3 separate regions of the Homo sapiens genome follow, and regions 1 and 3 are each linked to region 2. Evidence: fine-mapped expression QTL. A gene starts in region 2. Each other region holds a variant in brackets. All regions are shown on one strand. Distances are between the middles of the regions. Region 1 has its middle 22 kb from the start of SERTAD4-AS1. Region 2 holds the start of SERTAD4-AS1 (SERTAD4 antisense RNA 1). Region 3 has its middle 21 kb from the start of LINC02602.

What was found. PIP is the estimated chance that this variant, and not a neighbour inherited with it, causes the effect. A credible set is the group of variants that fine-mapping cannot tell apart.
Region 1: its variant is the best candidate, but not a certain one, in a credible set for the expression of SERTAD4-AS1 in prefrontal cortex (GTEx, PIP 0.54).
Region 3: its variant is the best candidate, but not a certain one, in a credible set for the expression of SERTAD4-AS1 in subcutaneous fat (TwinsUK, PIP 0.76).

Annotation. Positions count from the first base shown.
Region 1 is chr1:210,253,627-210,257,842 of GRCh38, reverse strand. No RefSeq gene overlaps it. Among named protein-coding and RNA genes, the nearest start is that of SERTAD4-AS1, 22 kb to the right of the region's middle. The variant G/A (reference allele first, on the strand shown) is at 2,086.
Region 2 is chr1:210,231,539-210,235,754 of GRCh38, reverse strand. SERTAD4-AS1 (SERTAD4 antisense RNA 1) reads left to right here and starts at 1,870. Exons shown (of 2, transcript NR_024337.2): 1 at 1,870-2,120; 2 at 3,984-4,216. SERTAD4 (SERTA domain containing 4) reads right to left here and starts at 2,959. Exons shown (of 4, transcript NM_019605.5): 1 at 2,744-2,959. RefSeq lists an enhancer at 2,548-3,081.
Region 3 is chr1:210,270,240-210,274,455 of GRCh38, reverse strand. No RefSeq gene overlaps it. Among named protein-coding and RNA genes, the nearest start is that of LINC02602, 21 kb to the left of the region's middle. The variant A/TA (reference allele first, on the strand shown) is at 2,173.

The DNA.
Region 1 (4,216 bases), 22 kb before region 2:
AGGTGCTACATCAAAGGAGAGCGGTGGAGTCGGCGATTACTCGGGCATGTGGCTCACCTTCCTGCCAGTATTTTCCCTGACAAGACTTTACTTGCCACCCACATTTTCCTCTCTGGTAACAGAGAGGATTAAAGGCTCCTCAGTCTGCTTCTAACTAAAGCCCTCACCACTCCAGAAACTACTGGAGCTACTGTCTGCAACTCCTCCTCTCCCCCAACCTGCCTCCCCTGTCCTTGACTCTGCCACTCTAGGATAGTCCCACACAACCCTCTCTGGGCCGTGGGGATGATGCTGGAGGGTGTAGATCAGAGCCGGCCAGCCCCAAAACGTTGACCCTCTGGTGCCGGGTAGTTTTCACTGGGCAGTCCCTGGGAGTGAACTAGGGGGATGGGCTAAGGGTCCCCAAGAAGCAAGAACATGGTGCCCAGAGGGCCCAGAGGAGAGGGGATGTGGTTGTGAGCCAGATGGGAGCTGCATGATTCCCTGTACAAGGGATCACGGAGATCCAGGCCTTGACTTGTCCGATATGGTAGCCACTAGCAGTATGTGGCTATTGAGCATTGAAATTGAAATGTGTCTTGTCCTAATTGATATGTGTTGTCATTGTAAACTAGACACCAGATTTCAGACTTAGTACAAGACAAAAAAGAATATAAAATATCTCAGTCAAAATGTTTATATTGATTACATGTTAAAATGACAATAATTTGTGTATATTTGGGTTAAATAAAATATATTATTTAAATGTTTTATAATTTAAAACTTTTTTTTATTTTTTAAAAATTAAGGGACTGGGTGTGGTGGCTCATGCCTATAATTCCAGCACTTTGGGAGGCTGAGGCGAGAGGATTGCTTGAGTCCAGGAGTTCAAGACCAGCCTGGGCAACATAGTGAGACCTTGTCTCTATTAAAAAAAAATTTAAAAAAAAAGTGCAGTGGTATAATCATAACTCACTGTAGCCTCGACCTCCTGGGCTCAAAAGATCCTCCCTGCTTAGCCTCCTTGAGTAGCTGGAACTACAGATGTGCAACGCCACACCTGGCTAATTTTTAATTTTTAGTAGAGACAAGGTCTCCCTGTGTTGCCCAGTTTGGTCTCGAACTCCTGGGCTCAAGTGATTCTCCAGCCTCAGCCTCCCAAAGTGCCGCGATTACAGGTGTGAGCCACCACGCCCAGCCTTTATTATTAAAATTAATGTCACTTTTTTTAATGAACTTTTTTTTTTAATGTGACTACTAGAAAATTGAAAATGACATTCATGATTCGCATCGTATTTTTATTGAGCAGTGCTGGTCTAACAGAAGTAAAGTGTTCCCCACGGGGGGATCAGCCACGGAGAGGGGACCAGTGAGAGAGAGCCTGCTGTGCCCACTTTGAAGTCTTCTCTACCATCAGTCTTGTTCAGCTGGGAACAGGAGCCTGTGAACAGCTTGCCTGACAATGAGACTGACCGGGAGCTAGAACTAAAGCTCCTGACCCCATTCTAATGCTCTGTTCTCTCAAGACAGGACCCCTCATTCCCTCATACCTGGGGCTGGGTTGATGAATTTGTGGCTTACGGTGTAGGGGAGGGGGAAGGTACCCCCAGGACTCTGGGCATCTGTCTAGGGGACCTTCACTGCTGGACTCACCAAAGTTTTAGGGACCAGGACGTGGTGGTAGTACATGTCTCTTCCTGCCAGGAGCCCTTGTCACAGCCTGCAAGCTTAGAAAAGAGAGATGCCCCTTCCAATGTAGGGCATATTCTATTATTTATTAACCCCGAGGAGGCCTGCCCACGATGGCCTTCCAGCTGGTTAATTGGATTTCATGACAACTTTTTTAAAAGGAATGTTCTGAGGAGCAGTGTTGTGTCCTGCCCCAGGGGTCCTGTGAGGTTTCCTCCATCTCCTTGAAAACTCAGCCACTGCGGTATAACATGGAGCTTTAATCATACATGTCAGTGTAGCTCCAGTCCCATCAGAAGCTGTGGTGGGGCTGACACAGCCACTGATGCTCCAGGATGAGAAATAAGTCCCTTTCTTACCTATGATAGAGAAAGTATCTTCTGTGCTTGATGTGTGGGCGACTGCTAGTTAATTTGT[G/A]AGGCACTTCTGCTTCGATTACAGCCCCTCGTAGGTGAAAGTGTGCTGCTTATCACAATCAGAATGTCATAAGTTTGCATTTCCTTCTGCTGAGGAGACATTAATAGACATAAGGTCCTATGATAATAGCTATTAGCATGGCTGAGGCCCCTACTTAAACAATTGCTTTGAGACTAGGCAGCTAAACACTAGTATTTCATGCATGGGCTCATTGCTCTTCCTCCCAGGTCAGTTTTGCTATGGTTGTTTCATCCAGAGGATGTTCAGGGAAGGACAGAAGGGGAGCCCCCTGCAGATTCGTGGCCACCCACTGTCCCATGGCCTTCAGATAAGGAGAGGGACAAAGCCTGCTGTACAAAAAAATCTATGTATGCACAAAGCTGCATTTTTAAGGACAGGCAAGAATTCCTGGTGTTATGGTAGAATTTACTGGAGAGCCCTTTAGACTGTTAGATTCCTGCCAGAATGGGTTGTTTACAGGGAGGTCTACTGAGGATGGAGACTGGGCAACTTAAAACAAGAAGGCAAGGAGCTAACCCCATGTTTAGTGTCTTTCTTGTGTAGAGTTCTGACACTAGACACTTACAGTAAGTATGTGCCCATAAACCACTATCCCATGGACCCGAGGGTAGAGCCCCTTCCTAGGATTTGGAAGGGACCCTGGAGAGAAGGAATGGGGGTGCGTACTGAGGTACTAGAACCCCTAGGGATGAGTGCAGTGGAAGTTCAGATAGCCATGGAATCTATCCTTTGACTGGGTGCTCTCTTTTTCTGGAGGACATGCTCATAAAACAACAAATTGTCACTCTAAACTATTCCCCCACATCAACAAGGACAAGGGTCCCACAGCTATTCATATTGTGTGCTTGGCATTATGTAAAGTGACTTACATACACCATCCCAATAACTTAGTTATGGGTATAGTTAGCCACATTTTACTCATGAAGAAACCTGCGCTTACAGAAGTCAAGACATTTACTCAAGGTCACAAAGTTATAGGAAGCCAGGATTGTAACTAAGCTCTCTGATTCCAAAGCCCATGTTTAATTTCTACTTTATAATGCCTTCCAAAAAAAATCTCCCCCAAAACTATGATTCTAGTTGAAAAGTAATTCTAGAGAGGGGGGATATTACATTTTATGTATCACAGAACAGACCTATAGTAGCCCTGGAAAGGCTTCACACAAAATGTGGACCTTGAAGTGGCCTTGAGGGCAAGTTACTCTTTGTATAAGTGGGGGCATGGAGAGGTTATCCCAGGCTAAGGGAAAAGCAGGAGTGAAGGCTGGGAGGTGAAAAGTTGCAGGTCAGCAAGAGAGGACATTGAGAGGACAGAAGTGGCTGGAGCAGAAGGTTCCCCCCAGGGAGCAGAAGGTGGGGCTGGGCATGTAGCCTGGGCTGAGGTCTGGAGGGCATTGAAAGTCAAACCTGGGAGGTAAAGTATTCCTGTTTGCCTGGTGATTTAGGATGATCAGCTACAGAATGGATGGAGTGGAAATGCTTGGGGACTTAGGGGGCACCCTGGGCAGGGCTGAGGCTGTGGACTTCACCTCGGTGGACCTTAATCTCCCCTGCTGTGAGAAGGGTAGATAACCCTGGGTGCTCAGAAGTCTGGGCCCCTGTGGAGCTTGGTGATGCTAAGGCACCTGATGGATGCTAAACCACCTAGGTTATGGCTGCCAGGTGCAATGGCAGAGGTGCAATAGTAGCACCTTCTTTTTCAATGTAAAGATAGCTAGAGGGAGAGAATTGACTAATTGTGTGAGAGCAGAGGGAGGAGTTCAGGTGACTCTGAGACTCCAGTTGGAGGATGTGAACAGAGTATCCCTCTCAGCAGTTGGTCCCCAGCACTGCCTGAGGCCACACCCAAATCTAGGAGCTCCAGTCCACCCCCTTGGGCACTGGCATTCTGCATGCCTGGCTTGGAGGTAGGGTCTCCCCAGCTCCTCCCTGCCCCCTCTGCAGAAAAGCTGAGACTTTTCCCATTTCTCCTGCCTCTTGTTTCTCTAATTTTATGATTGTATGAAAATAAGGTTCCCAAATTGCCTTTAATTAGCTTTAATAAGACAGCCTTTTTGCTAATTAAAACGATTATTAAGAAACCATTTATTGAGAATGAACACAGTTGTTA
Region 2 (4,216 bases):
ATTATATGGGCCCTGTGCTGTTTTATGTTTGTCAGAGTTTGTTTATATTTTAATAACTTTTTGGTAGTACCTTTTTTGGTTGTGAGGAATTTCAGCGTTTCTATTTGTTAGCATTATTTCCAGCATATCCTATTATGCACGTGAACTTGAAACATGGCATAACAGTATTTATCTTGGCTATTATTTTGTTCACAATATCTAATTTTACTAAGTTTTTCTTTTTTAAATTGAGAACTGTTACACACAAAACCCTAAACTAGAGAGGCTGAGTTCTGCAAGTGATTTATGTAAATCTGAATAAAACATGAATGAGTTGGGATTATTTGGGAGCGGGGAGGAGATTTTGCAATTGAGTCTTCCTAGTCTATTTAAAACTTACACTGGATGTTAACAAATTAAGAAGGCAAGTTGAATGTTCACGAAAAATTGGACAGGGCAGCGTTAAGCACAAATGCTTAACGTGAATCTTTCTTCGTATTATATGTAGAGATCTAAACTGTCATAATTCTCTGTCTGATAAGATTTATAATTCTGCTACTGACGTCAGCAATTCAAGTCCACAAATTCGTGTTCTATTAATATTAAATAAAGAAAAGGATATACATTATGGCAAAATTTATTTTCTAAGATCAGAGGTGATGGATTCAACAGGAGGGTGTTAGAGTGTGTTTTGTCTATGCATGGGTTTAAAAGATAAGAAAAAAAAAAGCCCTAACCCTTCATCCTCAGGCTCCTGAATGTCTGTTTTGACACCCAGGTGGATGTAGTGGAATGACACTTCCAGCATCCCCAGAAGACTGAGGGCTAGAATGCCAAGCTTTTCCAGCAAATGTTCGTAGTAAAGTTACCAGGCATTTCTATACAATTTGTTTTTTTCCAGATGAGTTGGGCTTGTTCTTTCCTAGAAGCAATTATGATGCTAATAGGAGTGGCTGGCACACAAAACAGGGTAGCTATGAATTCAGCGGCACCTTGAATCTAACAAGGGGCTCCAGGTCATTCTTTGCTCACTTCTTCTTCCATCTGTCATTGAAAATTGGAGAGCATTTGATTAAGATCATTATAGCAGTTAGCAGTCTGATTCCAGCACTGGAAAGCAGGGAAGTAAAGGGCTATTTCCACCCCCGATCGATGCTGCCAGTTTTAAATGGCATCAAGCCCCTGACCTCCACATTGTCCCAAAATGATCTCAATAGCTTGTCCGGCTCCTGGTGGTGGTAGTGGAAGGGACTGGATGGGCGGAACAAAATTCTTCAACCCTTCTAAACAAACAGATGTCGCTTTTCTGCCGTTCCTGCAGTACACCTGTCTGCCCTGGGAAGTACATTTCTCAGCTGCAGCCCCGCGAGGCCAAGAGCTTGAAGCTGGGTCCTGTGGTTGGGGCTGCAGGTGCTGGGCCTAAAGAGCACGAAGGGGTGCTCCGATGCCCGAGCCCTGGTGCCCAAGGTGTGTGTGTGTGTGGCGGTTGCGGGGGTGGGGTCCGAGGTTTGGAGGGCCGACCTCTTGAAGGCGGGCGGCAGCCACCAACCACATCCTGGCTCCCGCACAGACACACCCCCGGGGTGTCGGTGCCGCAGCCCTCAGCCCCTCCCCGGGTAGCCAGCAGCGCCCGGTCGGCCGCTGGCCGCAGGAGAAAGTAAACAACACCCCAAGTGTCCGGGAACAAAGGCAAGTTGTCTTTCTACGGTGCCGCAGCCGTGTGCCTCTTCTGAAGAATAAGAGCTATTATTATTCTTTATGTCTTATCCTTTTTTTTTTTTAAAAAAAAAACCAAGTTTCCTTCTAAGGGAAATAAACACCAAAGGTAGGATTCCAAGGAAATGACTCACAGCGGCTGGCAGGGCTCTGGCGGGGCTGGCCCGGGCCCCCGCGCTCCAGCCCGCAGCAGATGTCGGCCCGGCCTTCCCTCCCTCCCTTGCCGGCCAAACCCGCTGGAAGCCCGCGGTTGCGGGAGCGCCCTGCGCCCGTGGGACCTGGCGGCGAGGACGCCTATTCCCTGCTTCTGCGACCACAGCTGGGCACTCGGAAAGTTGCTAGGGCCGAAGAGGCGGGAGGGGAGGAAGGGAAGCGAGAGGCGGAGGCGTGGACCAGGCGGGCAGCAGCCTCAGCCCGCCGAGGAGGTGAGCTGAGGACAGAGGAGCCGCCGCCGCCCGCAGCGCAGCTCTGCTGCCTGGGAGGAGGGTGCGGGGGCGGAGGTGGCGGGGGACAGAAGGTGTCAGCTACTGCATCAATTCCTTTTTCTTGCAAACGCGCGCTCCTGACATCCACAATCCCTCTCTCCCCACCTGCCAAGCGCCGCGGCATCCGGACCTGGGGGCACCCCTCCTACTTAACCCCTTCCCCTACGATGAGGGACTAAGCGGCCACGGAGGACCATGAGGTCTCACCAGAGCTTCTGACCCCACCCGCCCCTGGAGTTGTCTCGGTGCGCGCGGGTGGCAGCCCGAGCAGCCCTAGAGGAGGCGGCGGTTCCCGCCCTGGTGAAGGCGCCGCGGCGCACGCTAGCCCAGGGAAAAGCCCGCGCCGCCTCCGCGCCCAGCTGTGCCTTGGCCCCCACGCCGCCCCGACTCCGCTCCGGCCGCTGCGAGTCCACTCGGTGACCTCGGCACAGCCCTGGTGCCAAGAGGGCGCGCGGGAGGCCGCGTGGGTGCCCGTCTGCGAGGGCAGGAGCCCCGGGGGGCCCTCGCCCTCCACCCTGCCCGGCCCTCCCGCCCCCGCGGCCCGCGCCCAGCCCGGCTCTTACCGCGGGGTCAGCGGGGAGGCGGCGGCCGCAGCGCTTGAGCTGCTGCTGGTCCGCTCTGGGCTCGGCGCCAGCCCGGCCGCCGGTGCACACTCGCGGGTCCCGGCCCGGCCGCCCGCTCGGCGGTGACTGCGGGTGCGCGGCGGGCAAGGGTCCCGGCAGGTCCCGCCGCCGCGACTGGGGCGCTGCGCCGCCGTCGCTGCAGACGGTTATGGTAATGAGCGGCTCTGTCTAGCGAGGAGCGTGTGAAACCCGTCAATCCTGTTTGCCATTTCCCCGTGGATTTCCGAGGAGAGGTTCTGCAGGATGCCCCCAGGGTGAGAGAGGGAACATGACAAGCGCGCCCGCTCTCCCTCCCTCCCTCTGCTCAGGCCGCCGCCGCCGCTCCTCAGGCTGCACACGGGGCGCCTTTCCCGCACCCCCACCCCAGCCCGCCCCCTGCCTCCTTCCCTGCTTCCCGCCCTCCCTCCTCCTTTTCCTCCCCTCCCCTCCCGGTGCCCGGGGACACGCGGGCCCAGCTCCAGCCCGCAGCCCAGACCCCACGCGCTCTCGGGCTCCCGCCCTAGCCCTGGGGGCTTGGCTCCAGCCGAATAATGTATTCACTCTGGAACCTTCCGAGATATCTTGTCTTTTTAAATTTGGTTTAGTTTTGTTGTTGTTGTGTGTGCGTGTGATTAAAAAAAAAATCTGTGCCTTTCCCACCCTTTGCAAAAGACTTTCTTCTCCTTTGCCACAGCAAACGGAGATGAGAAACAGATGTCTTTGCAGGACCAAACAGTTATTCTCCCTCGCCGCCCGCCCCCGCCCGTTTCCCTCCTGAGCTGCGTACGTATTAAAAAAAAAAAAAAAAGCAACCTTGGTCCTGCTGCAACTTGAATTGGCAACCCTTTCTGGGTGGGGAGCCTCCAGGGAAAACCTCCAGGAAATAAAAAGTAATACAAGAGATTGTCCTTGCTCAAGAGAATGTAATTTAAGCCTTGGAATCAGAATATTTTGCAAATAGTAATTTTCTCCTATAGTGGCCTCAGAGTTTATTTTTTAAAATCATTAATTCATAACTTCTGTCTAGGGACCCCTCCATAGTCGAGATGGGTCATTTCAGGTGTAATGAAGGCAGAGGCTTGGAAGGCATAGACCTAATAAAATCGGGAGAAGGCACCTGCACAAAAGTGTTACAAAGACTATAATGTTTGTTTACTGCCACTATACCAGATGTGCTAAATATAACACTTCTTTAAAACAGTGATCCTCCGACTGTGAAAAACCAGACCTCTGGCTGCCTGGCTCCCTAGGAATCAAGAAGACGCACAGACTGAAAATCAAGGGAGGAAGGAACAAGATCAAGGATGAGGATTAGCATCTGCAAATTGAACTCTATCTAATTTGCATGTTTATTTCTTAGAATTGTAATTAAATTTGTGTAATAAATGTTTTCCATTTCATTTGTACACTTAAAACTTGGGTGACTGACATGCA
Region 3 (4,216 bases), 39 kb before region 2:
TATCACAGGAGACAACTATTGCCCCCAAAGACCTTCCAATGGGGCCGGGCGTGGTGGCTTATGCCTATAATCCTGGCACTTTGGGAGGCCAAGGTGGGTGGATTGTTTGAGCCCAGGAATTTGAGACCAGCCTGAGCAACATGGTGAGACACCTATCTCTACAAATTACACAAAAATTAGGCCAGTGTGGTGGCACAGGCCTGTAGTCCCAGCTACTTGGGAGGTTGATGTGGGAGGATTGCCTGAGCCTGGGAGGCAGAGGTTGCAGTGAGCTGAGGTCACACCACTGCACTCCAGCCTGGGCAACAGGGCAAAACTCTGTCTCAAAAAACAAACAAACAAACAAAAAAAACAAAAACAAAAAACTTTCCAGTTGGACAAGATATGGAGGTGGTTCTTGACCCTGTGTAGACCTAGGCTAATGTGTATGTTTGTGTTTTAGTTTTTAACAAAAAAGTTATATAAAAATAGAAAAAAGCATATAGAATAATGACATAAGGAAACAAATATACAAAGAAAAATTTGTGTATAGCCGTACAATGTGTGTTTTAAGCTAAGTGTTAATACAAAGGAGTCAAAAAGGTTTTAAAATTTTTCAAAGTTTATTAGGTAAAAAAGTTACAGCAAGCTAAGGTTAATTTGTTATTGATGAAAGAAAAATATTGTTTATAAATTTATTGCAACCTAGGTGTACAGTGCTTATAAAGTCTACAGTAGTGCACAGTCTTAGGCCCTCACATTCACTCACCACTCGTTCACTGACTCACCCAGAGCAACTTCCAGTCCTGCAAGCTCCTTTCACAGTGAGTACCCTATACAAGTCTACCATCATTTATCTTTTATACTGTATTTTTACTATGCCTTTTCTATGTTTAGATAAGTTTACATACAAAAAACACTTACAATTGCCTGTGGCATTCTAGAGCTTACCATTGCCTATGTTACAATCGCCTATGGTATTCAGTACAGTAACATTCTGTACAGGTTTGTAGCCTAAGAGAGATAGGCTATACCATGCACCCTAGGTGTGTAGTAGGCTCTACCATCTAGGTTTGTGCAAGTACACTCTATGATGTTTACACAATGGTGAAATCGCCTAACAATGAAATCGCCTAATGACACATTTCTCAGAACATATCCCCTTTGTTAAACAATGCAGGACTGTATACATATAAGCAATTAGAACAGTGTCTGGCACACAGTTTTGCTATTATTAGTATCATCGTTAACTTCTCTTCCCTATGAACATCTGAAAAACCCCTATCTTTTTTTGTTTATATTAACATATACACAATTCATGTCCTTCCCTGCAGAGAACGTGAGAGAATGAAGGCAAAGGGGGAATCAAAGCTGGAAAGGCAGAAACAAGTGACCCAAGGCGCCTGCTTGGCACCAAACGACTCCTCAGGTAAGCCCTAGCCAGCCCCCATCCCCGCCCCCAGCTGGCCTGTGCTAATGGAATTCAGAAGGTAACACAATCCTCAGGCTCTGAATTCTTGGAGGATCCTGGCCAGGGGCTATGGGAGCTGGCAGGAGGCCGGGAGGCTGAGGGCTGTGATAAAGATCAAGTGCCCACAGCCCTCCCGTCCCTTCCATCCCACCCGGGGCTGCCTCCTGAAGCCTGGCCTCAGTGCAGGTTTGCAGATTTTCTCTAACTGGCTGTCTGGCTTCCTGGAGAGAAAGTGTTCAAGCCCAGAGAGCCTCAGGAATGAGAGTCTAATCAGACCCATGTGTGGAGAAAACCTCTACTCCTTTTTCTTAGTTCTTGCTGCTTTCGTCCCCACCTGGGAAAAGACAGTAGCCCAATAGGGGAGGGCCTTTCCTATGGGGGGAAAGCTGGTGGTCAGGGTCCCCCTTCCCCCGCCCCCACATTTTCCCCCATGGCCGGGGCTTAGAGACTTCTCTGTCACCCTGCAGGGGAACGGGGATCCAGACAGGGCTTTTGCTCCTCCACCCACCCCAGGATGAACCACAGTGAGAGTAACCACTGAAACACAAGATAGTTGGGACCTCTGGGTGTCAAACAAGAAGGAGGGTAGAAAACACAAAGAAGGCAAGAGACATAGTCCTTTTGGAGACTCAGCCCCTGCCTAAGCTCCCTGTCTGGGGCAGAAACATGAGTCGCCCACAGGATACAAGAGAAATAAGACAGAAACTTTTTTTTTTTTTTTT[A/TA]ACTCTGTACCTCAATGGATGCAAAGGGACAGAAACTTATGAGCAAAAATTGTTTGACTCTTACAGGATCCAAATTCCCGGCAAAGCACAAACAACCATGGAAAGAAACTGCTTGGAGTGCTTTCTGCCATCTTCTCACCAAGTTCAGGAGTCAGCACTTCTCAATGCGTCTCGTCTACACCATGCACTATATAGGCACTTCTACATACTGCCCATTCTCATTACTTAGGGTACTTACGCCCTACAAAATCACTGCAGACCTCGAACCTCTGGTCAGAACATTTTCATTAACCAATCAATACATAGCCTTGTTTTATGAGCTTCTATGAAGTATGTATCATTGATTCATTAACATTGAACTCACAGCCCACAACACTATCATTTCGGCCTGAACAAAGCTTATCTAACAGACTTCTTTTCTCAGTAAATCTCATCACAGTCTTCTTGTGCTTAGGAGCAGGAGACACCACTTCAGTGCTATGCTTGGGGACCATTTTAGACAGTGAAATCACCAAGAAAAAGCACAAAAAATGCCAAAACCATGGCACTAAATAGACTGCAAAAAGGGCATTTGTTTACAGCATGAGGGCTGAAAGAAGAAGGAAGAGCATGCCTTATCCAGCCTCAGCTGGGAACGTGATTTGAATTTCTGCTGCTCTGTGCATGTCTGCAAATGACCCCAAAAACATTGTAAATATTGATTTGAGGGTTACAAATACATTTTTGTGAGTAGGCAAATTTGCAAATACAGAGGTCACAACTAACAGGACCAACTGTACATTATCTCATTTACTTCTCCTAGCAATTCTATGTGGTAGGTATTATTATTATTATTATTATTTGTAGAGACAGAGTCTCGCTTTGTTCCCTAGGCTGATCTCAAACTCCTGGGCTCAAGCAATCCTCTCTCCTCAGCCTCCCAAAGTGCTGGGATTACAGGTGTGAGCCGCCATGTCCAGCCTGTGGTGGGTATTATTATTCCAATTTTAAAGATTAGAAAACTTGGGAGCTGGACACGGTGGCTCATGTCTGTAATCCAGTGACTCAGGAGGCTGAGCAGGAGGATCCCTTTAGCCTAGGATTTTGAGGCTGCAGTGAGTCCACCACTAGTCCAGCCAAGGTAACATAGCAAGACTCAGCTTCTAAAAAAAAAAAAGGTTGGGAAACGGAGGCTCAGAGGGGTTTATGTGATTTGTACAAGGTGGTATGGCTAACAAGTGGCATTTGTATGTCTCCCACATCAAGCTTAAGACCTTTCACTTGGATAAAACTCTACCAGAGAAGATCATCCTGCCTCAGTCAGTCTTTTATTCTGTTATCTATTTGCCATACCTAAATGGGCTTGTTCAGCTACTGCTGTGGGCTGGTGTGTTCTCTTTGATTTATCTGGGGGTGCTTATGGGGATGGGGAACTATAACCCTCTTCCTCTATCCCCAGATTGAACTCAGATTCTTGAGTAGAGAGAGGGCCTCTCCTGCTGTTTATTCCCCAGGAGCTCTGCAAGCAGAGTCTTGAGAAAAGCAGCCCCCATTCCTATCCTGTATTCAGCTACTGCTACAGGCTCACAGAGCAGGTCGTCTGGGGCAAGTGTGGGAGGGCTCAGGTAGGCTCTGCATCAAGTCATTCAACAGATGCAACAGATATTGGGCCCCTGCTATTTACTTAGTCCAATATCGAGCTTGCCTCGGGGACACTGTAAAGACATAGGAAACATCTCCACCCTGGTCTGCTTTCAAATAAGTTACCTGTGGTGTGGGAGATTAAGACGCAAACATCACAGGCCAGCCAGAACCGTGCATGGTGCAGAGCTGAGCTCAGTGCAGCCTTCAGTGGGTAAGAGCATCCATGAGGGCTGGCGTGGGTCCTTCTTCATGGAGAAGGAGTTTTGAAGTGAACTCAAATAGTGAAAGGGATAGATAGAAGGAAGGAGGGGAGTTCAGGCATAGCTTGTGAGGAGATCAACGTGGCTAGAATCTGGGCTGCAAGCTCAGGACGGAGTTTAGCAGCAACAAAGAAACAATCCAGGAAAGAATCCATGAAGGT